Homo sapiens: one gene and its partners. The protein of the gene in region 6 purifies or fractionates together with the protein of the main gene of each other region. This does not show direct contact. Each region holds a gene or a part of one and is shown on either strand. Other genes may lie near its edges. The genes, in order: KIRREL1, TTPAL, MPZL1, EIF2AK3, FLVCR1, NHLRC3 and OGG1.

Evidence for each region.
Region 1: the proteins of NHLRC3 (region 6) and KIRREL1 purify together in Homo sapiens (affinity purification with mass spectrometry; one large-scale study listed by BioGRID and IntAct). This does not show direct contact.
Region 2: the proteins of NHLRC3 (region 6) and TTPAL purify together in Homo sapiens (affinity purification with mass spectrometry; one large-scale study listed by BioGRID and IntAct). This does not show direct contact.
Region 3: the proteins of NHLRC3 (region 6) and MPZL1 purify together in Homo sapiens (affinity purification with mass spectrometry; one large-scale study listed by BioGRID and IntAct). This does not show direct contact.
Region 4: the proteins of NHLRC3 (region 6) and EIF2AK3 purify together in Homo sapiens (affinity purification with mass spectrometry; one large-scale study listed by BioGRID and IntAct). This does not show direct contact.
Region 5: the proteins of NHLRC3 (region 6) and FLVCR1 purify together in Homo sapiens (affinity purification with mass spectrometry; one large-scale study listed by BioGRID and IntAct). This does not show direct contact.
Region 7: the proteins of NHLRC3 (region 6) and OGG1 purify together in Homo sapiens (affinity purification with mass spectrometry; one large-scale study listed by BioGRID and IntAct). This does not show direct contact.

What each region holds. Positions count from the first base shown.
Region 1 is NC_000001.11:158,080,155-158,084,493, forward strand, and holds part of KIRREL1 (kin of IRRE-like protein 1 isoform 1 precursor), read left to right. Parts: intron 1-4,267; coding exon 4,268-4,339. UniProt on the Homo sapiens protein: Required for proper function of the glomerular filtration barrier. It is involved in the maintenance of a stable podocyte architecture with interdigitating foot processes connected by specialized cell-cell junctions, known as the slit diaphragm.
Region 2 is NC_000020.11:44,481,815-44,486,153, forward strand, and holds part of TTPAL (alpha-tocopherol transfer protein-like), read left to right. Parts: intron 1-2,522; coding exon 2,523-2,716; intron 2,717-4,339. UniProt on the Homo sapiens protein: May act as a protein that binds a hydrophobic ligand.
Region 3 is NC_000001.11:167,724,665-167,729,003, forward strand, and holds part of MPZL1 (myelin protein zero-like protein 1 isoform a precursor), read left to right. Parts: intron 1-4,339. UniProt on the Homo sapiens protein: Cell surface receptor, which is involved in signal transduction processes. Recruits PTPN11/SHP-2 to the cell membrane and is a putative substrate of PTPN11/SHP-2.
Region 4 is NC_000002.12:88,617,465-88,620,964, reverse strand, and holds part of EIF2AK3 (eukaryotic translation initiation factor 2-alpha kinase 3 isoform 1 precursor), read left to right. Parts: intron 1-3,500. UniProt on the Homo sapiens protein: Metabolic-stress sensing protein kinase that phosphorylates the alpha subunit of eukaryotic translation initiation factor 2 (EIF2S1/eIF-2-alpha) in response to various stress, such as unfolded protein response (UPR).
Region 5 is NC_000001.11:212,889,000-212,893,338, reverse strand, and holds part of FLVCR1 (choline/ethanolamine transporter FLVCR1), read right to left. Parts: intron 4,194-4,339; coding exon 4,082-4,193; intron 1-4,081.
Region 6 is NC_000013.11:39,036,907-39,041,812, forward strand, and holds the start of NHLRC3 (NHL repeat-containing protein 3 isoform a precursor), read left to right. Parts: upstream 1-1,549; 5' UTR 1,550-1,733; coding exon 1,734-1,817; intron 1,818-2,229; coding exon 2,230-2,382; intron 2,383-2,657; coding exon 2,658-2,805; intron 2,806-4,906. Other genes in the region: PROSER1 (proline and serine-rich protein 1), read right to left, coding at 292-336.
Region 7 is NC_000003.12:9,752,670-9,755,986, forward strand, and holds part of OGG1 (N-glycosylase/DNA lyase), read left to right. Parts: intron 1-2,034; coding exon 2,035-2,216; intron 2,217-3,317. UniProt on the Homo sapiens protein: DNA repair enzyme that incises DNA at 8-oxoG residues. Excises 7,8-dihydro-8-oxoguanine and 2,6-diamino-4-hydroxy-5-N-methylformamidopyrimidine (FAPY) from damaged DNA. Has a beta-lyase activity that nicks DNA 3' to the lesion.

The DNA of each region.
Region 1 (4,339 bases), on a different chromosome or scaffold from region 6:
AAACCTTCTTCTTTCTTTTTTCCTCCCTAACTGCCTCTATCTTAGGCCCTAGAAGGTGCTACTGCTGCCCTGGAGTACTCGCTTCCTAATGAGTGGACCTTGATACTCTTCTTTCTGCTACCTTATCACAGAGATAGAGAGAGATGAAGAAAGGCCAGCTAAGCTACTAAGTGTTGCAGTAACAATGTCTTATAATGGCACCCAGTGGCTTGGTTCAATCCAGGAAGAACCTGGAAAAGGAGAATATCAAGGGGAACCCTAGATGGAAGAGTGCCTTGTTTAAAAGCTTGCAGGCCAATGAAGGAGAGCTACATAGCAGGAGAGCCGACTGGCTTGTTTCGAGGGCATGGTGGGTATTGAAGGTATGGTCCTTGCTGGCCTGCCTGGGTGACTTGGGTGGATGAGAGAACAGGGAGAGACCCCAGGAGTAACTTTAAGCTGAAAGAGAGACAGGGACGGTTAGTGCAGCTGGAGGGGCTTTACACGCCTGGGCAAACACCTGGGCATGGTGTCTCCTCGGGGCTCTACCCATCCAGGATCTTCCTCCCGGGTGTGGCAGCAACATGTGACCTTAGAGGGGCCTGAGCAGACCAGGAGGCCCTTCTCCCTTCACTCTTTCCTCTCCTTGTCTTTCTCTTAAATTCTCAAACACCCTGCCACCTGCAGCACACGGAGGCAATAAGAAGGCATGACACTTCCTGCATCCCTTCCTGCGTACCTGCTTACCCACAGCCTTTGCTCATGGCAGCTGGGGGACCCAGAGACTAGGCAGGGCAGAAATGAGGAGTGGGCTGTGCCCAGTGCCTGGTATCAGCCTCCCTGCATGATGTCAGCCTTATAGACTCCTCTCCTCCCCAGCCATCCCCCTCAGCAGCCCCCCAGCTCCCCAGGCCAGGGGCCCTCTTCACAAAATGGCCTCTGTCATTCTTCCTTAGGGTAGGACTTTGAAAAGAAGCCTCCCACTCCCCCGCAGATGCAGACATAACATAGATATACAGACCTCCAAAACCATGGTGATGAGCATGACTTCTGGGTCAGGCAAGCCTGGTCCACATCCTAGCTCTGCCCTCTAACTCACTCTCCTGTCTCTGAGCACATTTGTTTATCCTCTTCGAGCCTCCGTTCCTTATCTGTAAATTGGGGTTAATATATTTACCATGAAAGGAATAATGAAATATACTTTGTGGTAGGGATTAAATGAAGTCATATACAGGAGGCACTTTGGCTGACACAAGGTGAACGTTCACTGAGTGGCAGAAGTTATTGTCGATCCCACCACCATTTACAGTTGGCTTCACCTTCTTGATTTTGTTTTGCAAAATCAGGGGAGTAGGTGTCCATTGTATTTTTGAAGTTTTATAAACAAGGAGACTGAGGCTTTTTTGACCACAGACTCAGGGGCACATGAGTTTGGGGAGGCACATGAGCATATTGATATACAGATTTAAGTCACAAACCATAAAAACTTGCTTATAAACACATGCACACATGGACACATGCCCTTTAACAGCTGGCTCAGCAGGCACCTTAACAGCTTTATTGTCATTTGTCCCATATATGAGGGACGAGCTCATATATGAGGGATGAGCTCACGGAGGATGGGCAGAGAGTTTGGAAAATTCAGAGAAAGGTAGACTGCTGGCAGAGGTGACAGATGGGTAGTCTTTGCATGAACAAAGGGGCAGGAGGCATTCCCAGGGTAGAGGAAGCTGATGCCTTCCCAGCGGAGGGGCTTCACACACCCGGGCACACACCTGGGCATGTTGTCTGCTCGGGGCTCTGCCCATCCAGGATCTTCCTCCTGGGTGTGGCAGCAACATGTGACTTTAGAGGGGCCTGAGCAGACCAGGAGGCCCTGAGCAGCAGCTCTTTATTCATTTCTCTCCACCTTTCTCTACTTTTCAAGCTGCTCCCCATCCCCATCCTCAAACCTGTCCCCATCTGGCATTGGAACCAGATACACCACAGAACAAGGAGGAAGAGCCAGGGATTCAGAGGATAATTAGCCAGGCAGGAGTTGGAGCCACTGCTACTCTCGTCCAGGCAGTAAGGCTAATACATTCCATACCTCACACATGCCCTGCACATCATAGTCTATGTATAGTATCTCATCTGACCTTCATGAGGCTCTAGTGAGTATGGTTATGTCTTGGTTTCTTCTCTGATGAAGAAACTGAGACTCAGTGATTTTAGGAACTCATCCGAGATCACACAGCAGGTAAACAAAGGTGCCAGGATTTGAAACCAGGCAGTCTGAATCTAAGTTTTATTCTTTTTCCACTATACCACTAGGCACACATGAGTTGAACAGAATGCTAAGACAGGTTTCGAGTAGTTTCTACTGGAAACCCCAGCATAGAGACCTTCATTGTGTAAATTCTAGAACAGCCCTGTCCACCACTGGGCACCGTGGGTCTCCCAAGATCTCCTCTTGAGTGTTCCCTCTGCACACTCCTCTCGAGTGTTCCCTCTGGACCCTCCTCTGGGTCTTTCTTGTCTTTCCCAGAAAGAAGCAAACAAAATCTTTTATCGGTGGAGCACGCTGGCTCATGCTTGTAATCCCAGCACTTTGGGAAGCTGAGGTAGGAGGACTGCTTGAGCCCAGGAGTTTCAGACCAGCCTGGGCAACATAGCGAAACCTCGTCTCTACAAAAAATAGAAATTAGCCAAGCATGATGGTGTGTACCTGTAGTTTCTGATACTTGGGAAGCCGAGGTGGGAGGATTGCTTGAGCCCAGGAGTTCCTTTCTCATTTATGGTTGATGAACACTGGGGGGACCAGAAAAATTATAATCAAAATCCTTCTGCCTTTATTTCATCAGTATCCATTCATTAATTCAGCAAATATCCCTGAGCACCTGTGATCACCCAAGCCCTGGGCTAGACATTGAAGTGTTGATGGTATATCAGAAGCAGCCGCTACCCTCAGGGAACTTACAGTCTGGTTTGTCTTAGAAGCCTATGGAGATAGGGGAGGGAGAGCCCCCCTTGTTTGCAACATCATACATCGGTCAATTGAATTCTTTAAACATTTAGCAAGAGCCTACTTGGTCACATTCTAGGCACTGGTGACCATATAAATATTAGTGAGACAGGGTTGCTGTTTTTCCAGGGGATCACAGTTTTGGTTGGGGCAGGGTTCGATAACTGTTATAAGTAAACAAAATCCAAGGCGCTAAGAGCTCTGAGTGACTGGTGGGGGCCACCATGGTGGGGGTGGGCTACAGCATGGAAAGCCTTGTGCATCAACTGGGATTTGAACAGGATAGGAAGCACTTCAATAGAAGCTGTGGGAGAAGGGCATGCCATATGGAAAGCACTGCAATGCAGGTCTTGGCTTGAGGACCCTGAACAGGAGGCCGAAATGCTTGGAACTTATGCCCTAGGCAGTTGTAGCCATTGAAGGTGCTTGAGCAGGGGAGTGGCACATACTTAGCTGTGCTGAAGGGAAAAATAACCTGCTAGCAGTGTGACATGGAGGTTACTGTAATAGGCCAGCCCATCTGTCTGCTCCAGGGCAGAGGAGCAGACAGGAGGAAGGATGGGAGAAGTGCTATGGAGGTAGCCACCTTTCCGAGCCAGACTCCCAAGACTATGAGCTGTACTCAGGGCCTGAGATAGCCCAGCCCTTTCTTAAGTTTGAGGCTTCCATCTGTAGTGTGCAGCTCTGAGCAACTGTAGGGGTATGGAGCCAGGCACAGTGGTTCACGCCTGTAATCCCAGCACTTTGGGAGGCTGAGGCAGGTGGATCACCTGAGAGGTCAGGAGTTCGAGACCAGTCTGGCCAACATGGTGAAACCCCTACTCTCTACTAAAAATACAAAAATTAGCTGGGAGCAGTGGTGGGCGCCTATAATCCCAGCTACTTGGGAGGCTGGGGCAGGAGAATCGCTTGAACCCAGGAGGTGGAGGTTACAGTGAGCTGAGATGGCACCACTGCACTCCAGCCTGGGCGACAGAGTGACACTCCATCTCAAAAACAAACAAACAAACAAACAATAAACCAGTAGGGGCATGGAGTACCAGAAAATATTATAGGCCAGGAAAGAAAAGCAGACAAGGACTGGGAAAGATGTGTGAGCTGAGGACCTAGAGGAAGCCACCACAAGAGCAATGAAGACAGTGGTTGTAGATTAGGGGGTAGGGTGGTACCGCCTACCTAGAGGCGCACATGCAGGTGGAAGGATGCTTCCAGAGGCAGGAGTTTTGGTCTTCAGGGAAGTGTTAGCCACACCCTGCACTGACTTTGCTCTGCTTTCTCCCACAGTCCCCCCAGAGGACACCAGGATTGACGGAGGCCCTGTGATTCTACTGCAGGCAGGCACCCCCCACAACCTCA
Region 2 (4,339 bases), on a different chromosome or scaffold from region 6:
TTGCCAAAATTAGTGGTGTTTATTTTAAAATAAGCAATGCAGTGCAGATTTTAGGGCGCCAGGAGACTTAGAAACCAGTCAGCAGGTTTTTCTGCTGCTCCTCTGTACTCAACTCATAAGAATATTACAACACAGTCAGATATTACAACACTGATTGCACCTTTGCTTGTGTAGTTTCAACCCTTTGCTTGTGAGATGAATTTTTTCCCCATATGTCTGGAGCAGATCTGGACCCCTTTCCACTGACCCAGCGTTTTAGGAAGAGGCATACACAGAAAGGTTTCTTCTCAATTGGGTATCAGCTTTGCCTTTGTTAAAGCTCTTTTGAGACATGTGATTGAAAGGGATGATATCCAGTTACATAGAGGCAGGGTTAATTGGCAGCAACGTTAGACAGCAAGCTGGCACAATTTGGGGACAAAGATCTTTCACGAGAATTTTGCACATATCAGGTCAGGTGTGGTGGCTCATGCCTGTAATCCCAGCACTTTGAGAGGCTAAGGCAGGTGGATCATGAGGTCAGGAGTTCCAGACCAGCCTAGCCAACACAGTAAACGGCCCCCGCCTCCCCCCAACCCCCACCCCCTGTCTCTACTGAAAATACAAAAATTAGCTGGGCGTGGTGGCACATGCCTGTAATCCCAACTACCCCGGAGGCTGAGGCAGGAGAATCGCTTGAACCCGGGAGGCAGAGGTTGCAATGAGCCGAGATCACGCCACTGCACTCCAGCCTGGGTGACAGGGCAAGACTCTGTCTCAAAAAAAAAAAAAAAAAAAGTTTTTTGCACACATCACATATCCCATTGTTGGCAAATGGGAAGTTTTATCTTTTAAGAAAGAGGCACATAGATTTTGCTGGGATTTTCTTGAGAACAGTGGTTAACAGTAAAAAGTGGGCATTCTCATTTTTTTTTTCCCAAAGAGAGGAAAGAATCATTAAATACATGGGGTGTATTAAAAAAGTATCCACCTTGGAAAGAGGAGGGGAACATAGCACTATGTTCCATCCTTACAATACCTCCGTCAAGGTCGTGTATGAGTCAAGACTCAGCTTTTTTTTTGAGACAGAGTCTCGCTCTGTTGCCCATGTTGGAGTGCAGTGGCGCGATCTCGGCTCACTGTAACCTCTGCCTCCTGGGTTCAAGTGATTCTCCTGCCTCAGCCTCCCAAGTAGCTGAGACTACAGGTGTGCACCACCATGCCCAGCTAATTTTTGTATTTTCAGTAAAGACAGGGTTTCACCATGTTGGCCAGGCTGGTCTTGAACTCCTGACCTCCAATGATCCACCCACCTTGGCCTCCCAAAGTGTTGGGATTCCAGGCGTGAGCCACCACATCTGGCCAAAACTCAGTCTGTGTGGCAAGTGACAGCCAACTCACGTTAGCTGAAACAAACAAAAAAACCTCAGTTGCTCAGATAACTGAGGTCTAGCCGTATTTCCATTCAGGGGCCCAAACTCTGGCACTGGAAAGCTGTCCCCACCACTGCTGTCCTCAACAGGGGCTTCACTCCCAGGCCAGCTCTCTTGCCTCATGGGGCCCGTGAATCTCAGACTCACCGCCTCAAAACTACAAGAGGGAAGACAGAACTCTTTCCAAAGGGCCAGGGGTCCTAGAATTGAGTCTCCTTGACTCTGCTTGACCTGGCTTGGATCACACACTGTGGCCAGAAGGATGTGCTGTCAGATTGGCCAATCAATCCCCAGTCACTTGCTCACCTCTGAAGTCAGGAGTCAAGTCAGTTCTATCCAAACTGCATGGCTAGAGTGGGAGGAGGTGGTTCCCTAAGGAAAATCAGGTTAGTGCTATGAAGATAAGGGGAAATACATGATGGCAGAAAGCACAGATGTCCATGAAGGTAGGCATTATCACCCTATTCTACTTATGAGGACATCGGGGCTCAGAGTGAGGTATTATAGTAACTTGCCCAAGGTCACATAGCTAGTAACATTCAAACCTCAGGTGTGTCTGACTTCAGAGTGCATACTTTTTTTTATATTTTTGAGACAGGGTCTCACCCTGTCACCCAGGCTGGAGTACAGTGGCATGATCACTGCAGCCTCAACCTCCTGAGCTCAAGAGATCCTCCCACCTCAGTCTCCCAAGTAGTGAGACTACAGCCACACCCCACCATACCTGGCTAGTGTTTGTATATTTTGTAGACATGGGGTTTCGCCATGTTGCCTGGGCTGGTCTTGAATTCCTGGGCTTATGCTTAATTCCTCCCACCTCGGCCTTCCAAAGTACTGGGATTACAGGCATGAGCCACTGTGCCCAGCCAGAGCTCATGCTCTTAACCTCAACACTCAATTGTATTTCCATCACAAAATGTGCTGCTGTTTGGAGTTAAGAAACCAGCTGCTGCTTATTGTTCCATTTACTAACCTAAATAAGAGTCATGGCTACTAGAATATCTTTCTTTTCCATTTTGAAACAACAGTGATAGAAAGGAGATAAATCTTTGTTTGACCACTTATTTATATTAACTTCTGTAACATACTGTCAATCTCTTATGACCTTAGACAGATGGATACCAAGCAACTATCCAATTACTGAAAACATCCGAGCCATATACTTGACCTTAGAAAAACTCATTCAGTCTGAAGAAACCCAGGTGAATGGAATTGTAATTCTTGCAGACTACAAAGGAGTGAGTTTATCAAAAGCATCTCACTTTGGCCCTTTTATAGCCAAAAAGGTGATTGGCATCCTCCAGGTAAGACCCGTATGTGTCCTGCCTGTTTCGTGGTGGCTCTGGCTTTCCCCAGGGCCTGTCCATTTACTGTGGGTCTCACATGATACACAAACTGCACATCCCACACCTGCAATCTGAAAAACACAAAAGCATTATGGGAAGAAATTTAAAAGTCCTATTTACCACTTGTTCTCATCAGTCTCTCAAGTACTCTCTGGAGTAGGTACTTCAGTAAGACAAGAGTCCAAAAAACTAGAGAATTTGCTTGTTGCCTTTTCTTGGTCTGGAAGGCAGAGGAAGAATTCTCATAACAAACAAAACTGGCTGGGCGCGGTGGCTCACGCCTGTAATCCAATTCTTTGGGAGGCCGAGGCAGGTGGATCACTTGAGGTCAGGAGTTTGAGACCAGCCTGGCCAACATGGTAAAACCCCATCTCTACCAAAAATACGAAAATTAGCTGGGCATGGTGGCAGGCACCTGTAATCCCAGCTACTTGGGAGGCTGAGGCAGGAGAATCATTTGAACCCAGGAGGCGGAGGTTGCAGTGAGCTGAGATCGCGCCATTGCACTCCAGCCTGGGTGAGAACAGCAAAACTCTGTCTCAGAAAACAAACAAACAAAAAACCTAAGAAATTATGCTTCTGCGTAAGGTGCTGGAGCCCCTCCTGCCCTCTGTGGACCTGAGGGATATGGTGTTCTGTTGGGCTGTATTTTGGTCAGATGCTTCACACCTCATGTTCTGTGTTTCAGAACATGAGTCACTGGGGACTGTGGTGCTCCCTCCATATCTGCACCGTGTTTAACAGCTTGCACAGTGCTTTTACAGTCATCAGGGCCTATTCAGTCCCTCAGCGAATCCTCTGAGATAGGCAAGGCAAAAACTATTTTTCCTTTTTGATAGATGGGAAGATGGAGACCTAGAGAAAATATAGCCTGTCACAGCTGTGACAGGTTTTGATTACTTGTTCATTCTGACCCACCACGTGGGGTGTTTTCCCTTGTAAACTATGGGGCACCGGTGGTATAGTAGCTCTTCTCACTGATTCCACAAATGTTTCAGCCCCTGTGGTGCACCAGGTTTATTATTTAAATAAATCAGTGCACATTTGGACATTATCAAACATTTGGATTCTGGCTTTGAGCCAACCCTGGCTTTCCTTCGCTGGCACTCCTTTTGATGCCTCCTCCTGAATACCTTGTAGATTCAAGTGTCAGGATCAAGAGTGTGGATCAGTGTTAGTACCGTAAGATCATCTGGAGAGGAGAAAAAATTAAGTAAGTTTGGGAAATGCTGTATAGCATGTCCCTTTCTTGTGAATTTCACTGTAAGAATTTACATGTTAAAGGCTCTGAACAGGAATGCAGTTAAGGAAACTCACTTGATTATGCTTAGTGGACTACGTTTCTCAAACTCATTTGCCTGCTGTGGAGCCCTGTTTTATATAACCTCTAATAGCCTGAGAAATATACTTTGGGCAACACTGATCTGGAAGGTCTGGTATTTGCCAGATCTGTCCCTGTAGACTCAGACTGTTTTCTGCTGTAAGAGCAGCAGCTCTTCATATGTTTGCCTCTCTTCTTTTTTTTTTGAGATGGAGTCCAGGCTGTCATCCAGGCTGGAGTACAGTGACACGATTTTGGCT
Region 3 (4,339 bases), on a different chromosome or scaffold from region 6:
GAAGATGATGGAGATACTTTTGAATATGTTGAGTTTGAGATGCGGGTAAGACATCCAAATGGAGATGGGCAGAAAACAATTGGATAGACAGTTCTGGAGGTGAGGAGAAAGTTCTGGTTGGAAATGGAGATTTAGAGAGTTATGTGGCTAATAGTTAAAGCTTGGATTGTTTGGATGAGGGCATCCAGGGAAAATGCACTGAAGAACATAGCAGAGAGCCAAAGACGGAGTTTTGGGGTATATGAAACCTGACAAAGAGTCTCTGTGAGTAAGAGAAAAACCAGGTGAGTTTGGTATTTCAGCATTGTCAGATGAAGAGAGATAAAATGTGATAAGAATTCACTGAATTTGGTAATTGAAATGAGCACATAGTATATGAGGACTAAATCTCAGTAATTTGTACCATCCATGTCAGTAAATGGAACCTCCATACATCTAATTGTGCAGGCCAGAAACCTAGGGTCCATCCCTGATTCTTCCCTGTCCTTCACATCCAATCAGTTCTCCCATCTTTAAAATGCATCTGGAATTGATGTTTTTTCTACCTCCACTCCTAGCCTTTTAGTCAAAGTCACCACCATTTCTTGCCTATATTACTGTGATAGCCTCCCAGCTGCTCTTCCTCTTTTTCCCCCTCTGGAGTCTTGCTCTGTCTCGCCCAGGCTGGAATGCAGTGGCACAATCTCGGCTTACTGCAACCTCCATCTCCCAGATTCAAGTGATTCTTCTTGTGCCTCAGCATCCCAAGTAGCTGGGACTACAGGCATGCACCACCATGCCTGGCTAATTTTTGATTTTTCTATTTATTTTTAAATTTATTTTATTTATTTATTTTTTGGGGGATGGAGTCTCGCACTGTTGCCCAGGCTGGAGTGCAGTAGCGTGATCTCGGCTCACCACAACCTCCACCTCCCTGGTTCAAGCGATTCTCCTGCCTTAGCCTCCCGAGTAGCTGGGACTACAGGCGCATGCCACCATGCCCAGCTAATTTTTGTATTTTTTAGTAGAAACTGGGTTTCACTATGTTGGCCAGGCTGGTCTCGAACTCCTGACCTGGTGATCCACCCGCCTTGGCCTCCCAAAGTGCTGGGATTACAGGCGTGAGCCACCACATCTGGCTGATTTTTTTATTTTTAGTAGAGACAGGGTTTCACCATGTTTGCCAGGTCTGGAACTCCTGACCTCAAGTGACCGGCCTGCCTCAGCCTCCCAAAGTGCTGGGATTACAGGCATGAGCCACCACGCCCAGTACTCATCTTGGTTCGTTTTAATCCATTCTTCACAAAACTGCAAGAATGATTTTGTTAAAATGCAAATCAGATCATGTTGCCTTCTTTTTTAAAATCCTTAATGGCTTCCCATTGCACTTGGAATGAAATCTAAACTTCCCATGGCCTGAAAAGCTCTTTGTGATCTGGTTTCTGCTTACCTCTATGACCTCAACTTGTACCACCCACCACCCCTTTCTCACTATATTCAAGCCACACTGCCATCTTTCTGCTCTGTGACACTCATTCCCACCTCCTAGCCTTTGAACTAGCTGTTCTGATGTTGCCCAGGGCTGGCTCCTTTCCATCACAGAGGCTCTAAGTTTCACATCTTTAGAGAGGCCTCTCTGACCACCTTATTCTAGGGTACTTACCTGTTACTATTTGCTGGTTTGCCGTTTACTTCCTTATTGTAATTTCTATATGGTTTTTCTTCTCTTTTTTTTCCTCCATCAGAATCTGGGACAGACAAATCATCTGTCTTGTTTATAGAAGTATTCCTAGTGCTTAACACAGTGGATATGGTAGATGCTAAAAATATTTGTTAAATGGCAGTGAGGCATAGGCATGTCTTGACAACAGTTTGTTAGGAGTTTGCAATATGTAGTTATGATTTAGCATGGTATAGTAGGTCCTCAATATGTGTTTATGCAAGAAGAATATTTTTCCAAAGTGTGATTTCATGCACTGCTTATTTCTCATTATCAGTTCCCTTGGCCTTTTACTTATTTACTAGTCAGGATAGTAAAATAGAAACTTAGTCTTATAAAATATGTATATTTTTTACTCCAACTCCAGGATATCCACTAGGCTTAGATGCTGCCAAAAGAAAAAGATAAATGTTAAGTGAAAGACAGCTATGTGCAAAAGAACATAAAATGCAAGTTTGTGTTTTCATTAAGTCTAATTTATTTACTTATTCAACGTAAATGAACACCTACTGGGCACAAGGCACTGTTTATGTATGGGATGCAGCAGGGAGCCTAGATGCTAGTGAGAAGTGACAGACAGGAAACATCTACTCAAATAAATAATACCAAAGGACAGATTAAATTCCCAACAATCACAACTTTTAAGAAAATATGATTGATCTAATATGAAAATTTGCAGCAAATTTTTGAAAAATGGAACATCTTATTTGTATTATAAAATATTTTTAAAACTTATAAGGGATATGTTATAGGGTTTCTTTAAAGATTGGTCTTTCCCACTGAGTTTTAAAAACATGATTTAATTGGGAAAAACATAGCTTTTCAGAAATATTGCTGTTTCCCCTCTATCCAGTAGATGCTGGTCTACCTACTAAATATTTCTCACCATCCACTTTGCATCCACACTGGAGCTAATATAGTACAGCCACAGTCATGTCTCTACTGGATGATTAGAGCCTTCTAACTGGAGCCTGACTGTTTTTGAGTTATATCTTTTATCTGAGAATTTGAATTATTTGTGTAAGACATACATCTCATGTGTACCTCAACCTTGGAAAGATTTTTAATCTTGCTCTCTAAGACCACAGATGTCATTTTAAAAGGGAGAGTAAAATGGTAAGCTTTGGCATATAATTTATTATAGATTAGTCTTTAGCCCCATCGAAGACGGTATAATTATTAGAAGAACTAGAAGCATCTCCTGAGGTCTCAAGTGTCATATGGCTCTGAGACTTGACCCCTAAGGCTGGTGATATTAAGCCTTCATGTATCTTGAATGATATTCCTTTTTTCCTTTTCCACTCTTACTTTGCTAAGTCGTTTGACATTAGCAGTGCCCTAGAGTCCAGACAAAAGTCTTTGGAATTTTTGCTGCCGTAAGAAAGCAGAGGTCAGTTGGCTCCGTTCACCATAGTGCATAAATTGAGAAATTGTGGTTGTCTCCTGGGATCTTTATATCTTTGCCTTTAAACCCCTTTGTTTATTCATTATCTTTTTTCTTTCTTTTCCTTTTTTTTTTTTTTGAGACAGAGTCTCGTTTTGTCGCCCAGGCTGGAATGCAGTGGTGCAACCTCGGCTCACAGCAACCTCTGTCTCCCAGGTTCAGTGATTCTCCTGCCTCAGCCTCCCAAGTAACTGGGATTACAGGCATAAGCCACCACGCCCAACTAATTTTTTTTTTTTTTTTTTTTCTGAGGCAGAGTTTCACTCCTGTTGCCCAGGCTGGAGTGCAGTCGCGCCATCTCGGCTCATTGCAGCCTCTTCCTCCCACGTTCAAGCGATTCTTCTGCCTCAGCCTGCCGAGTAGCTGGGATTACAGGTGCCTGCCACCACGCCTGGCTAATTTTTTTGTATTTTTAGTAGTGATGGAATTTTGCCATGTCGGGCAGGCTGGTCTCCAACTCCTGACCTCAGGTGATCCACCCAAAGTGCTGGGATTACAGGCGTGAGCCACCGTGCCCTGCCCAAATTTTTTTTCTTTTTTTTCTTTCTTTCTTTCTTTTTTTTTTTTTTTTTGTATTTTTAGTAGAGATGGGGTTTCACCATATTGGCCAGGCTGGTCTCGAACTCCTGACCTCAGGTGATCCACCCGCCTCGGCCTCCCAAAATGCTAGGATTATAGGCATGAGCCACCGTGCCCAACCTATTCATTGTCTTTTTCAATGCATGTGGCTACTGTAATTTTTTATTCACTTAACAATTTTTTCTTGATCCCATTAGGCCTTTATCCAAGATGATTTCATTGATAAATCCTCCTTCAGTAGGTTTCTTCTTCTAAACTCAGAGTCTCTAGAAACTGTGATACCTTATGATACCTCTGATCTTATTGTTAGAACATAGAGCTTGAGTAATTTTGTAGCAACAGTGATACACTGAATCCAGTACTTAGGTTTAATTGATTGGAGTTAGAAATGCAGTATGTCTTTGCCTATCCTGTGTATTGCAGATAAGATTGCCCCATAGAATGAAATCTATGACTTAAGTTTTGTTAGGAGCATGCTGCAACCAACTGAACAGACCTTGATGAACTTGCAATGAACATTTTTTCATACTGGGACCCTGATATTCTACTTTAGGATCTGGGGAGTTTATTACGTGCATTTTAAAAGATGCTGTTATCGGCCGGGCATGGTGACTCAT
Region 4 (3,500 bases), on a different chromosome or scaffold from region 6:
TTTTGTGTAGATAATATGTTTGTCCTACCAAGGTTTATTCATTCAACAAACATTTATTTAGTTTTACTGGGGCCCAGGTACTGCTAGGCCCTGAGAGTAGATAAATGTCTTTTCCGTAGGAAGCTCCAAGCCTGACAGATCATTGTGTTAAAGAATTAACTATCCTCGAATGGATAATAAGTGACATAAAAGTAGTGTGAGTGAAAAGAATGGAAGTGGCAAGTTATTGAGTCCCGGAATGAGAAAAATATCAAGGACAGTGTAGGCAACAGAATAGTGTGAGCAAGGGCACAGAGCAGGGAGTTTGTACAGTGAGCACAGAGCAGTGGTTCCTAAGCCAGGGCTCCAGGACCCCTACAGATCTGCAAAGATAAAAATGGGGATCCATGAGACTGCCAGTATTTTAAAATAACCTAATGGAAATTAAATATTTAATAGAAGGTACATTAAAAAGTGAAGTTCCTTTGCTTTGAACTAGAATTATATAAAACCTTATATAGTAATTACAGTTCTTTCAAGAAATGTTGAATATTTTGATTGGTTCTTAAGTATTTCCTCTAAAGATGGGAGAATTTATTATACACAGTGTTCATTTGGCAGGTGGAATAATTTAAGACATGGAGGAAAATATAGACAAGAGAACTTTTGAAAAGTTCACCCCATGGAAAGGGGGGAGTGTGGAGCTGGGAAGGAGAGGGGAGAGAGGGTTGGGCTGGTACAAGAGGCAGAAAAATGAGATTAGGAAAGTACACCGAAACCAAATTGTGAAAGGCTTTATGTGCCACACCAAGCAGTGTGACCTTTCTTTTTCAGTGGGCACAGGGAACCTTGGAAGTTTATCAGATCTCTATTACAGAAACAAAACTGTGGGAAGAAGAGAGGGGAAAGAAACCTGAGGCAGGAAAATGTGTTAGAAAGCATTTTAAGGTGTTCTGATGAGAAATGAGAATCTTCTAGAGCAAGAGCTGTGGTAATGAAGAAGGCAAAGATTTTTTTTTTTTTTTTTTTTGAGACGGAGTCTCGCTCTGTCGTGCAGGCTGGAGTGCAGTGGTGCAATCTTAGCTTACTGCAACCTCCGCCTCCCAGGTTCAAGTGATTCTCCTGTCTCAGCCTCTCCCAATTAGCTGGGATTACAGGTGCATGCCATCACACCCGGCTTACTTTTGTATTTTTAGTAGAGATAGGGTTTCACCATGTTGGCCGGGTTGGTCTTGAACTCCTGATCTCAGGTGATCCATCCGCCTTGGCCTCCCAAAGTGCTGGGATTACAGGGGTGAGTCACCGTGCCCAGCCAGAAAAGATTTAAGAGAAGCTTCAGAAATAGAATTAAGAGTACATGGCTGTTGTTTAAATGTAGAGGATGAGGGAGCACAAAGAGTTGATGTCTGATTTAAATGTTAGGTAATAGGATGGATGGCTACCCTTTTAAGTGGCAGGAATAGATTGTGGGAAAGAAGTTTCCTGAGCCTGTTATGGTGATAACAAGTAGATCCTGCTGAAGATGCAGAACTAGGATAGGGGAGAGATGGTGAACTATAAATCCTGTACAGGTTTGGGGGCTGTCATACTATAGATGGAGGTGAAGCTGTAGACATTGACCATCTAGGTAGAACATGTAGTACAAACAGGAAAATGCCTGCTCTATAGATAGAAAACTATAAGGATGATAGGTGAGGCCGGGCACGGTGGCTCACGCCTATAATCCCAGCACTTTAGGAGGCTGAAGCGGGCAGATCACCTGAGGTCAGGAGCTCGAGACCAGCCTGGCCAACATGGTGAACCCCCACCTCTACTAAAAAATACAAAAATTAGCTGGGCATGGTGGTGGGCACCTGTAATCCCAGCTACTTGGGAGGCTGAGGCAGGAGAATCGCTTGAACCTGGGAGGCGGAGGTTGCCATTGAGCAGAGATCGTACCATTGGGCGACAGAGCAAGACTCCGTCCCCCCAAAAAAAAAAAAAAAGAATGATAGATGAGGACCCAGGAGGGACTGGTCCTGTAGAAACCAGGAAAGAAAAATGTCCAGAATGAGGAGCTGGCCACAACGGTGGCTTTTGTGAAGACAGGCCTGATGAGGGGAGTGAATCTGGCAGTTAGGAAACCATTGAAAATCTTTCTTGAGAGTGGCTTCCAAGGATTGGATCATGGGTGAGAGTTCAGGGCTTGCTGAGGAATCATCCAAATAAATGCTTTTGTAAGCTACAGCAAAATGTAAGTGAGAGACAGAAGTCTCCAAAGTATTTACTGACAGAGATGTTCAATATGCCTTCTTCATCCACATCATAAATTTAATTTTTCTCTATGGAAATGACTAAGGTAAAACAGTGTTTGCACAACTGGTCTTATGAGACTCACCTGGGGTGCTTGTTAGGCTACATTCTCCCAGTCTCCCTCTTAGGATGAGACGTGGGAACCTTTAATGGTTTTTAACAAGCACTCCAGATTATTTTTATGATCAGGTACACTTGGGTTACACTGAGATAGGTGAAATAACCATATTTTGCCTATGAAAAAATAACTCGAATGAAGCCATGAGGAGAATGAGAGGAGAGCCTTGGGGATGTACACCCAGGTCTGACTTAGGCTTTGGTTCTTTCCACTGGAAAAGCTGTCTCTGCAGTTCCTTCAATTCTTGAATAAGTTAAGAGTTTTTCATCTTGATCTTGGAACCCTCAAAATAGGGCAAGTGGTCTTGGGGAGATAAATAACCTTATATTCTTCCTGTTTTGGGAGGTGTTCATTTTTCACTTTTTATCTCTGTTTATGTTTCTTCTTCTTTCTGGAGACAGCATTTCACTCTAACACTTAGGCTGGACTGCAGTGGTGCAATAACAGTTCACTGCAGCCACGACCTCCTGGGCACAAGCAATCCTCCCACCTCAGCCTCTGAGTAGCTGGGACTACAGGCATCTGCCACCATACCCGGCTAATTTTTAAAGTATTTTTGTACATTTGGAGTCTCAGTATGTTGCATAGGCTGGTCTGAAACTCCTGGCCCTCCAAGCAGTTCTCCTGCGTCAGTCTCCCTGAGTGTTGGGTTTACAAAGGAAAGCCACTGCACCTGGCTGTGTTTGTTCTAAATGCCATACCTTTTTTAAGTTCAACTTTTATTTCAGATACAGGAAGTACATGTGCTGATTTGTTACATAGTATATTACACCCAGGTAGTGAGCATAGTACCCAATGGTAGTTTTTCTTTTTTTTTTTTGAGATGGAGTCTCGCTGTGTTGCCAGGCTGGAGTGCAGTGGCGTGATCTTGGCTCACTGCAACCTCTGCCTCCTGGGTTCAAGCGATTCCCCTGCCTTAGCCTCCTGAGTAGGTGGGACTACAGGCATGCACCACCACGCCCGGCTAATTTTTTTTTATATTTTAGTAGAGATGGGGTTTCACCACGTTGGCCAGGATGGTCTTGATCTCCTGACCTCGTGAGCCACCGCACCTGGCCCCAATGGTAGTTTTTCAACTCACCCCCGGCCAGTACTCTGCAGTGTCTATTGC
Region 5 (4,339 bases), on a different chromosome or scaffold from region 6:
TGACACCTGTAATCCCAGCACTTTGGGAGGCCGAGGCAGGCAGATCACAAGGTCAGGAAATCAAAACCATCCTGGCTAACATGGTGAAACCCCGTCTCTACAAAAAATACAAAAAATTAGCCGGGCGTGGTGGCGGGCACCTGTAGTCCCAGCTACTCAGGAGGCTGAGGCAGGAGAATGGCCTGAACCCGGGAGGCAGAGCTTGCTGTGAGCCGAGATCACGCCACTGCACTCCAGCCTGGGCAACACAGCAACATTCCGGCACCCCCCCCCAAAAAAAAAGAAGCAACCCTTCATTTCTTCAGGTTTTACCATAAGATGCAGCAATTCAGTTACCTCTTCATATTCCACTTCTAATTCCAGTTCTCTTGTTATTCCCACCACATCTGCAGCTATTTCCTCCACTGAAGTCTTGAACACCTCAAAATCATCCATGAGAATGGGAATTAACTTCCTCCAAACTCCTGTTAATGTTGATAGTTTGACCTCCTCCCATGAATCAAGAATGTTCTTAATGGCATCTAGGATGGTGCATCCTTTCCAGAAAGTTCTCAATTTACTTTGCTCAGATCCAAGAGAGGAATAATTATTTCTGGCAGCTACAGCCTTTTGAAGTGTATTTCTTAAAGAATAAGACTTGAAAGTTGAAATTACTCCTTGATCCACGGGCTGCAGAAGGGATGCTGTGTTTCCAGACATGAAAGCAACATTGATCTCCTCGTACATCTTCATCAGAGCTCTTGGGTAAACAGGTGAATTGGTCAATGAGCAGTAGTATTTTGAAAGGAATGTTTTTCTCAGTAGCAGGCTTCAACAATGGGTTTAAAATATTCAGCAAACCATGCTACTAACAGATGTACTATCAACTACGGGGTTCAGGTTCATTGTTCCATTGTTAGAGCTTAGGCAGAGAAAATTTGGCCTAATTCTTAAGGGCCCTAGGATTTTCAGAATGGTCAACAAGCATTAGTTTCAATGTGAAGTCACCAGCTGCATCAACCCCTCACAAGAGAATGAGCTTGTCCTTTGAAGCCAGACATTGATTCCTCCTCTCTAGCTATGGCAGTCCTAGATGGCATCTTCTTCCAGTATAAGCCTGTTTCATCTACATGGAAAATTTGTGGTTTATTGTAGCCACCTTCATCAATCATCTTAGCTAGATCTTCTGGATAACCTACTTCAGCATCTACATCAGCACTTGCTGCTTCACCTTGCACTTTTATGTTATGAAGACAACTTCTTTCCTTACCTCATGAACTGACCTCTGCTAGTTTCCAGCTTTTCTTCCGCAACTTTCTCACCTCTTTCAACGTTCACAGAATTGGACAGTTAGGGCCTTGCTCTAGATTAGGCTTTGGCTTACGGCGATGTTGTGGCTGGTATGATCTTCTAACAAGACCACTCAAACTTTCTCCATATCAATAGGCTGTTTTATCATTTGTGTTCACTGGAGTAGCATTCTTAATTTCCCTTAAGAATTTTTCCTTTGCATTAGCAACTTGGCTAATTGTTTGGTGCAAAAGGACTAGCTTTTGGCCTATCTGGGCTTTTGACATGACTTGTTCACTAAGCTTAATCATTTTTAGCTTCTGATTTAAGAGGAGAGATTTACTACTCTTCCTTTTGCTTAAACACCTGGAGGCCACTGTAGGGGTAATAATTTGGGGGTATTAATCAGGGCCCTGATTTCAATATTGTTGTGCCTCAGGGAATACCATTTGAGATGGTAAAAGCATCAATGTAAAACTAATTTTAAAGATCTATTTTCACTTCTTAATTTTCTAGACTTGATTTGTTTGAATTAGTATTCATGAATCTCTTGTAAAAGTAATTTGAAGGAGGATTACAAAACTGCTCCCTTCTTTGGTATAACAATAATACTGTTTTTTTTTTTGAGACGGAGTCTCACTTTGTCACCCAGGCTGGAGTGGTGGTGTGATCTTCACCACTCACTGCAACCTCCGCCTCCCGGATTCAAGCAATTCTTCTGCCTCAGCCTCCCAGATTCAAGCAATTCTTCTGCCTCAGCCTCCCAAGTAGCTGAGATTACAGGTGTGTGCCCATAAAACTGGCTAAAGTTTTTTGTATTTTTAGTAGAGACACGGTTTCACTATGTTGGTCAGGCTGGTCTTGAACTCCTGACATCAAATGATCCACCTGTATCAGCCTCCCAAAGTGCTAGGAATACAAGTATGAGCCACCACGTCCAGCCAATAGTAATAATCTTAGATAAGATATAGTACTTGCCTAGGAATTAAGAACCAACATGGAATTACTTATGAAAGAACAATAGTTAAAGCAGTTAATGTATTACATATTTCACAGTTTTGTATGTTTTATTTTACTAACTGGACAGGGGGAAAAACTCCCTGTGATAAGATGTTTTTCTTTGAGGAAACAGAGTGCATTCACTTTCTTTTAGCTTCGTGAATGAATGCTCAGGTTCCTATCATTCATACAATTGAGTGAGCGACCTTAGGTAGTTGTGTATATCCAAAATGTCTATCACTGGTGAGATTTCATATTGAAGGTTTCACAAAGAATGATCAGGTATTCCACAAACAGTAGAAGAAATTCTGATTCACATCCTTCTGATAGATTCTCCAACTAAGTTATAACCAGATCCTCCAACTAAGTTATAACCAGATCAACGAAGCACAACCTCCCTTGGTATCTGCGGGGGATTGATTCCAAGACCCCACCTCAGATACCAAAATCCACGAATGCTCAAGGCCTTTATATGAAATGGTGTAGTATAAGCTTGTTCAACCTGTGGTCTGCAGCCCATATGTGGCCCAGGACAGTTTTGAATGTGGCCTAACACAAACTCACAAATTTTTAAAAAACATTATGAGATTTTTTGCAATTTTTTTTTTTTAGCTCATTAGCTATCATTAGTATTAGAGTATTTCATGTGTGGCCCAAGATATTTCTTGTTCCAATGTGGTCCAGAGAAGCCAAAAGATTGGACGCCCCTGGGAAGTATTTACATATAACGTACACACATCCTCCTATGTACTTAAACCATCTCTAGATTACTAATACCTAATACAATGTAAATAGCTGTTATACTATAATGTTTAGGGAATGATGACATTTTAAAAGTATGCACCTGGAAAAAGTTCTGCTTCCAAATCTATTGTACACCCATGTGCATGGGCAAACTATGGATAAAAATTCTCTGACATTCTCTTTCTCTGGAGATTGAGCACTATTTTCTTTCCTGCCCATGTCTATGATGACTATACCTAAGAAGTATAAGCACTAGCTAAGGATTCCACATACTATTTCCACCACTACCACTTGACTGCTTACCATCTCTACCACATTATAACAATAGTAACACATGTTAGGCACGTCCCAGGTGCCAGACACTAGGAACTTTTCATGAACCATTTCAATTAATCCTCACAGTAACCCTATAAAGCAGGCTTTAACACTCTATTATATAAATAAGGAAAGGAGGATTTGAGAGGTTAAGCAACGGGTCTAAAGTCACACTCCCACTGAGCAACAGAATCGGAATTTGAGGCCAGGTCTTCCCAACTCCAGGTCTTTACTACTCTTTTTTTTTTTTTTTTTTGAGACAGAGTCTCGCTGTTGCCCAAGCTAGAGTGCACTCGTGTGATCTTGGCTCACTGCAACCTCTGTCTCCTGGGTTCAAGCAATTTTCCTGCCTCAGCCTCCCAAGTAGCTGGGGCTACACGTGTGCGCCACCACAACTGGCTAATTTTAGTAGAGACGGGGTTTCGCCATGTTGGCTAGGCTGGTCTCAAACTCCTCACCTCAAGTAATCTGCCCGCCTCTGCCTCCCAAAGTGCTGGGATTACAGGCATGAGCCAACACACCCAGCCTTTACTACTCTTATTATAACAGTTTTGCTTGCTATGCAGAGTAACTGTATTGAATTTGAAATCTGCAAAATGAAGTAAGAGATTCATGTCTTTAGAAGAAAACAAATAATGTCCTGCTTTTTATCTCATTTTTTTCCCCTTGAGTTCTGTCAAGCTATTGAGAAGCAATATATATGAAAATTAACACATGACACAAGTCCTTTTGCCAGGCAAACGCCCTAATTTACCTGTTAATATGATGCCTATAAACATCCAGACACAGAGAAAAATGTTCCCTGCCTTAGGACCATAGTCTGATGTGAGCTTTCCTTGAGCCAATGTGAACAAAATTCCAAATATCTAAAATACAATAAGAAAAATCATTCGTTATTAAGTTAAATTATTTAAAGCAAGTATAAAGTTTTCACCAGAACTTTTCTTATTTTGGTTATATGATTTGGTTTCTAGAAACATTCATTGAAAAGTTGAATTGTTAAAACAAAAAC
Region 6 (4,906 bases):
AAAAAGTACAGAGCTATTACGGATTTGTAAAGCCGGCTTTGGAACCGAGGGCTTTACAAATGTAATTCCCACGACACCGTGCTGAGTCTCAAATTTGGCGTTAACGTAACTTAATTTCTATTTGTACTGGAAACGTATCAAGATATAAACTCCTCCATTACACGTGAAAATTCAAACCAATTTGGCAATCCTAGGACCCTTATTCTGCACAATCTCCATACAGTACCTCAAAGAGAGTCTAAAACACGAGAATTCATCTCATAAAATAATTCATGGAATCGGTCTAATTACCTTTCTAATTTCATCCAGCACCATTTCAAAGGACTTTTTATCCATCTTGACTACTATCCCGACGTGGTTTTAACAGTTATACTTGCAATTAAAAGACGTTCATCCCTGGTCTGCTCCGCCGATAGTAAAAAATATTTATAGCTGAGGAGGAAAAAGACTCCACGAGCAAGAGAGGATGCGAAGAGGTAGAGAGTATTGCAAACTTCGCAAAAAAAATTTCTAAAAATTGAGATTCAGAAAAACTCTTTTTATTAAAAAGAAAAAACACTCCAGTCAGGCTTCCCCAGCTTATTCACACAATGGTTCAGGGCACCTCGGGCAAGAGCCAGGTCCTCTGAGTTTTGCAGAAAAACCCGGGCTCGGCGGCAGGTTTGAGTGCGGTTTCCCTGCAGCTGAGGGCCAGGTGCCGCCAGAGGTAGCTCTTGAAGGCGCTTTCCCAGGTGGAGCGGCCGGCAGAGTAGAAACACCTGCGCTCAGAGTCCACGGGCGGCGGGGAGGGAGGCGCCGGTCTCTCGACCCGCACCTGCGCCTCGGCCGCCGGCCGCGACCCTCACCGCCGCGAACCCGGACGCATGGTCCGGCTCGCGCTCATCCCCAGCCGCTCCGCCCGACTCCTGGATACCTCGGCCCCGGCAGCAGGCGGCCCGGCAGGCTCTTTGTTACCAGCTGCTGCAGCTTCCGGGAGCGGGCCGGCGGCTGGGGAGCACCAGGAGCCGGGCGAAGAGGGGCACGGCCTCGCATAGGGGGACTCCGGAAAAACGCAGCCCCAACAGCGCCAGACGCCCTGCCTGGTTACCCCTACAGCCCCCACCAGCTCATGGGGACCTACAATAAAGCCAGTCGCGCCCAAGTAAACTCAACACTGCGCCGCCAGCTTGGGCCCCTCTTTCCTGAAAGCCAGAGGTGGGGTCCTGGTGTGGGAATATAGGCATCCATAGCGGATGCCTGGATGGTAGGAATAGGATGTGGCAAAAATCCTTCCCGAAGCCTAGCGGTCATTATTTTGAATGTCATCCCCACCATACCTCGTGTCTGAGTGTGCGATGTTTTGATTTTGCCCTCTGGATTAAAAAGAATAAATGGCGAGCGATTAAGGCATATCTACGGGCGCCCATACTTTGGTGGCCACTGAAAGTCAGCGGCGCGGACTGCCCTGAGGGCGGGAAAGGGTGGTCACTGGGTCAGCCCGAAGCACCTGACATGAGGGCGGGGACCCCGAAATGCACACGAAGTCCGGAACTGGTCTTCTGTGATTTTCATTCGCCCTGGTCTCTGTTCCCTTTCGTACTCAAAGCTCGTGCATCCAGGGAGGGGAAACCGGAGATAGGGTCTTCGGGCCCCGGGCAGACCCTCTGTGCCGCTGCAAACCGTTGCAGCCTGAGGCTGTCAGGTCCTCCCCCAGACACCTGCGGACCCTCCCTCTCCTGGCTTCCCGTCTGGTCATGGCGAGATTCTGGGTCTGCGTAGCCGGTGCTGGCTTCTTTCTTGCATTTTTGGTTTTGCATTCGCGTTTTTGTGGCTCTCCAGTGAGTTGGGTAGTGAGGAAATGACTGTCGGGTGTGCGGGTAGCCCTGTTGGGAGGCGTCGCCACGGTCGTGGCATGGAGGTGGCAGGCCCTGGTTCCCTCAGTAGCTTGTCTCAAAGCCTGCACCTGGGTCCAAACTGCCTTGACCCTTTGAGTTTAAAAATTTGTGTATGTTACATCGCCATTTTCCTCTTTCCCAACTCTTACTACATCCTCAAATAATTTGCAGACTTGTATTGTGGTCGTGTTGGTCTTTAGGCATCTAAGCTCATTTCTTTGGAATTATTTCAGTCCAGCAAACTTCTAGTTGTCAAGGCATGCTTAAAAATAAGCCCTGTTACCCGGCCCCCCCGCCCTTTTTTTGTTCTTACCTAGACGGTAAACTAAATCTGAATTGTCTGATTTTGTTTAAGGTTTTGAGGAACTTTACTTTTGCAGTTTCCTGGAGAACTGAGAAAATTCTTTACCGGCTGGATGTGGGTTGGCCTAAGCACCCAGAATATTTTACCGGAACAACATTTTGTGTTGCAGTTGACTCCCTCAATGGATTGGTTTACATAGGTCAAGTAAGTAAATAGAGATTTAAAAAAATTATGAACACAAAGGAAGTAACAGCCTTCCTGTCTTGCTGTAGTAACTGACCATATGCGTTTATATCATGCTAATTGTGCAATTTATTTTTGAGTTGGTCTCAAGTATTTTGGTTTCGAATGTGAAAGATATGTTAGATTTTGAAAGTGGTTTTTGTAGTAAAATTCTCAGTTATTTTTTTTCTTCGCCAAGATACAGATTACCTTTCCTTTAAGCTGATCCTAAGAAGTTATTTTTTGTATACCTTCAGAGAGGGGATAACATCCCAAAGATATTAGTGTTCACAGAGGATGGATATTTCCTACGAGCCTGGAATTATACAGTTGACACACCTCATGGTATATTTGCAGCCAGTACTCTATATGAACAATCCGTCTGGATCACGGATGTAGGAAGTGGTATGTATAGTAATATCTATTAAATTATCTTACTGGAAATCACATCTTTGCACATGTCCTTGTTTGTATTGTTTAAAATCAGAGTTGCTGAATCTAATTGTAATTTCTTTAACGATTCATGAAATCACATGTTTTTAACAAACTTTATTTTGTACTTCTGTGGAATTAAGAAATTTAACAAGGGCTGGACGCCGTGGCTCACGCCTGTAATCCCAGCACTTTGGGAGGCCGAGGCGGGCGGATCACGAGGTCAGGAGATCGAGACGATCCTGGCCAACACGGTGAAACCCCCGTCTCCACTAAAAATACAAAAAAAAAAAAAAAAAATCAGCCAGGCGTGGTGGCGGGCGCCTTTAGTCGCAGCTACTGGGGAGGCTGAGGCAGGAGAATGGCGTGAACCCGGGAGGCGGAGCTTGCAGTGAGCCGAGATCGCGCCACTGCACTCCAGCCTGGGTGACACAGCGACACTCTGTCTCAAAAAAAAAAAAAAAAAGAAAGAAATTTGACAAGGAGCCTGTTAATATGATCTTTCCTTGAACTTGTCTAGGGTCTTTTCCTCTTTAAAGCATCAGTTGCTCTTCTCAGATTAAATAACTCTAAACTGAAGCCAAATAAAGTGGCAGTCTCTGAAAGCAATGACTGGAATCCTTGACTCTTATTTTCCTTTTCCAGTTTTCTTTCATAAAAGATTGTGAAATCGTAACTGCTTTGTTGCTCAAAGTGCAAAGATTGCAGAAACTGTTGTTAATGTTTTTGAAATTCTACTGACTGAAGCATGTCTGAAATCTTCCTGCCATCAAATATTTTTAGTAGAAAAAGCTGAAAAATGAAGTGAGCACAACTGAATGTGCAGCTATGGAGAAAGTTTTCAGAGAAACAATTCACCTGTGGCTGTAGCTTAAGACAAGGCAATACCTGAGATATCCTGGCATTACCCTAGGAATTCAGGAAGAAATGGGATTATAAAGACATTATTTCTAGTATTCCTTGGCCCAGTTATGTTCTTGAATTGAGAGACATCCTGGTTCTACAGTCCTGGCTGATTCAGATACCATTTTTTAGAGATAATGAGTTCTCAGTTTCTGTAAGTAGTGCCATTATCACAGCTGTTCTCAGAACCCATAAGATTTCTGGGCCTCAGCTGATGGCCCATTTATTTCATGCTGTGTTTTACATAGTATGAATCTGGTTCAACCAAAAAAAGTCTATAGATTATCACTGAGTGAATTGTTAATACTATAATGAGAGTCTATTTTCACTTTTTTCCTGAAGATCCACTGTTAAAGACCATTTCTTTGAGTTCATTTTATTCATGTGATTTTTAAAAATAAGACTTCCTTGATTCCCAGAAATAAAAAGAGCACAGACGATCTCTTCATTTTTTCCATTACAGCTAATTTTCTACCCAGAGATCTGAAGACAGTTTTATATTCCCATTTCCCAAAGGAATAAATTTCCTCTAATGAAAAATATGGCTACAAATTAGCCTTTTTTTTTTGAGAAAATTTTTTATTGGTAGTCTTTTTTGCTAGTTTTTAGAAACTTGGAGGCTTATGTGTTTTTTATTGCTATGAACTTTAGCTCAACTGTCTAAAAGTGTAATAGTAAATAAATTATTTAACATAGAATTGTAATGCAAGCTGATTCACTTTCTTTCTGGTAAGCTCAATGTATCCAGTTTGTCTTTTGAATACCTATCAATTAATTTGGCATATGTACCTTCAAATTGATTTCTGTTCACTGCTTTATGATATTCCCTTATTAGTAGTCTGCTTTATGCTCTTGCTTGTAAGATAATTTTAACTTAAAGAAATTTTAACGTGAGAAAATAAGATACTCATGATTTACAAAGATTATTTTCTTCTTAGCAAAGAAAAGTTGGGTTGAATTTTGAATGTCTCCACAAGGTGAAAATGCAGTTAAAAAAAAAATCTGTACCATAGAGAACGTTTTTGTTGACTTACTGAAATTTAAGGTCTGTATGTGAGTGATTGAAATAACAGTTTCAAATATAAGTTGTTCCCTTTACATTTTCTTCTTGATTTCCTTTCATAAGCAATGCTTATTCAAGGTCATAAGATTAAAAAAGAAAATGGTGCAC
Region 7 (3,317 bases), on a different chromosome or scaffold from region 6:
GTGAGAACCAAGCTAGGACAAGTGCTTGGGAACTGCATAGCAAAGAGACAGACTGCCTCAAAACAGGAGAATGTTTTTGGTGCTTAGAAACCCATTCCTGGCCGGGCGTGGTGGCTCACGCCTGTAATCCCAACACTTTGGGAGGTCGAGGCAGGCAGATCATCTGAGGTCAGGAGTTCAAGACCAGCCTGGCCAACATGGTGAAACCCCATCTCTACTAAAAATACGAAAATTAGTCAGGCGTGATGGCAGGCACCTGTCCCAGCTACTCCGGAGGGTGAGGCAGGAGAATTGCTTGAACCCGGGAGCAGGAGGCTCCAGTGAACCAAGATCAGACCACAGCACTCCAGCCTGGGTTACAGAGCGAGACTCCATCTCAAAACAAACAAAAAGAAACCTGGGTCAGGCACGGTGGCTCACACCTGTAATCCCAACACTTTGGGAGGCTGAGGCAGGTGGATCACCTGAGGTCGGGAGTTTGAGACCAGACTGGCCAACCTGGTGAAACCCGCTCTCTGCTAAAAATTAGCTGGGCGTGGTGGCAGGTACCTGTAATCCCAGCTACTCAGGAGGCTGAGGCGGGAGAATCATTTGAACCTGGGAAGCAGAGGTTGCAGTGAGCTGAGATCATGCCATTGCACTCCAGCCTGGGCGACAGGGCGACAGGGCGAGACTCCGTCTCAAAAAAAAAAAAAAAACCTGGCCGGGCGTGGTGGCTCACACCCGTAATCCCAGCATTTTGGGAGGCCGAGGCGGGTGGATCACGAGGTCAGGAGATCAAGACCATCCTGCCTAATACGGTGAAACCCCGTCTCTACTAAAAATACAAAAAAAATTAGCCGGGTGTGGTGGTGGGCGCCTGTAGTCCCAGCTACTTGGGAGGCTGAGGCAGGAGAATGGCGTGAACCCGGGAGGCGAAGCTTGCAGTGAGCCGAGATCGTGCCACTGCACTCCAGCCTGGGCGACAGAGTGAGACTCTGTCTCAACAAAAAAAAAAAGAAACCTGTTCTTGAGTCTCAGCTCCTGGCTTAGTTAGTCATAAGGCCTCAAGAAAGTCATTCACCTCTTCCGGCTTCTCTTAGCTTGTTTGTAGAATGGGAATAACAGTTTCTATCTAGAAGGGCTTTGGGAGTGAATAAAGCAATCATGAGGCAGTGTAGTGTAATGGGTTAAGAGCACGGCGTTAGCCAGGTGGGGTAGCTCATGCTGGTAATTTCAGCACTTTTGGGAGCCCAAGGTGGGAGGATGGCTTGAGCCCAGGAGTTTGAGACCAGCCTGGGCAACATAGTGAGACCTCATCTCTACAAAAAATAAACAAAATTAGCCAGGCATGGTGACACAAGCCTGTAGTCTCAGCTACTCAGGAGGCTGAGGTGGGAGGATCGCTTGAGCCTTAGGAGGTCAAGGCTGTAGTGAACTGAGATTGTGCCACTGCATTCCAGCCTGGGTGACAGAGCAAGACCCTGTGTCAAAAAAAGAAAAAGCACAGGTCTTGGTGTCCCAGACCTAGGTGCAAGATCTTATCTCCCCCATGTCCTTTCTTAAGTAAGTTAACCTCTTCTAAGCCCTCATTTTCTCCACATGTAAAATGGGAAAACAGCAGTACTGTCAGTGGGGTTCTTGGGAAAAGTAAGCATGATAATATATCTGAAGCATGTTGCCTAGCACTTGATCATAGAAGCTGTTGCTATATTGTGGTTATTTTTTTAGATCATGAGTGTGAACACTCTTTCGGAAAGGTTAAGGAACTCAGTTGGGGAGCTCCTCAAGGGAAGCAAGTCCTCAGTCCCTGGACTAGACTTGGGCTCCGGGGCCAATTCATAGCAGGTGCTCAGAAAACATGTGTAGAGGGACAGGACCCAGGCCTAACCCTTTCCCTTGCACATAAAAGTGTCCACTATCCCATAGAGGGTGGGGAGGTAGGAGGGGAACTTAGGAAAAGCACTCTTGTGAGGTAGAGAGCTCACTTACTAGCCTAAGGACAGGAAGAACTTGAAGATGCCTGATGCTTGCCCTCCTCCTCACTCCCCGCAGGGCCAGAGGTGGAGGCTCATCTCAGGAAGCTGGGCCTGGGCTATCGTGCCCGTTACGTGAGTGCCAGTGCCCGAGCCATCCTGGAAGAACAGGGCGGGCTAGCCTGGCTGCAGCAGCTACGAGAGTCCTCATATGAGGAGGCCCACAAGGCCCTCTGCATCCTGCCTGGAGTGGGCACCAAGGTGAGGCCCCAGGGGGTAGGAGCTGCCCTCTCTACTGACACTAAGAGGAGAGCAGGAAATGAGCCAAGCCTGGGAGCTGGGTGGAGGCTTGGCTTCCGGAGGCAGAGCAGGAAGGAGAAAGGATATAAGTAGATGTTTTATGAGAGAAAAAAGCAGAGTGCAGAAAGAGTAGAAAGGATATAGCCCTTTGAATGAATTTCTAGAAAGACCATTTGTTCAGATGCAACACATATATGCTGCTATATATATGCAGCAATTTCCAGAAGGAAATTGCAGGAAACTAAATAATAGTTTCCTTGGGGGAGACAAATGGGAAGATATTTCTTCTTTTCGGTTTTTTGTTTGTTTGTTTGTTTTGGTAGAAATAGGCTCTTAACAATGTTGCCTAGGCTGGTCTTAAACTCTTGCCCTCAAGCAGTGTTCCTGCTTTGCCCTCCCAAAGTGCTGGAATTACAGGGATGAGCCACTGCTCCCGGCCACATTTTGTTCCTTTCGTAAAATGACATGTACTGACAAAACTTTTTGCTTGATGTCAATAGGGTTAACTGGCAATAAGATGACTGGAAATTAGGCATTTGTCTTTTTTTTTTTTTTTTTGAGGTGGAGTCTTGCTTTGTTGCCAGGCTGGAGTGCAGTGGTGCAATCTCGGCTCACTGCAACCTCCGCCTCCCGGCTTCAAGCTATTCTCCTGCCTCAGCCTCCAGATTAGCTGGGATTACAGGCATGCGCCACCACACCCAGCTAATTTTTGTATTTTTAGTAGAGATGGGGTTTCACCATGTTGGGCCAGGATGGTCTCAATCTGACCTCGAGATCCACCTGCCTCAGCCTCCCAAAGTGCTGGGATTACAGGCGTGAGCCACTGCACCCAGCCTTTTTTTTTCTTTATACTTCTCTGTAGTTTAAAAAATGAATTTTTGCTTAAAGATTTTTTTTTGATGGGCTTTGGACTACAGCCTAACATTAAATCTTGGTTCTGCCTATTCTCAGCCATGTGACTTTGGCCAGGTCACTTCACCTTTCAAAGCCTCAGTTTTCTTGTCTGTAAAGTGGGTGTGGTAATACCTTCTTCCCAGGTTATGATAACCTGGCCCACATAGG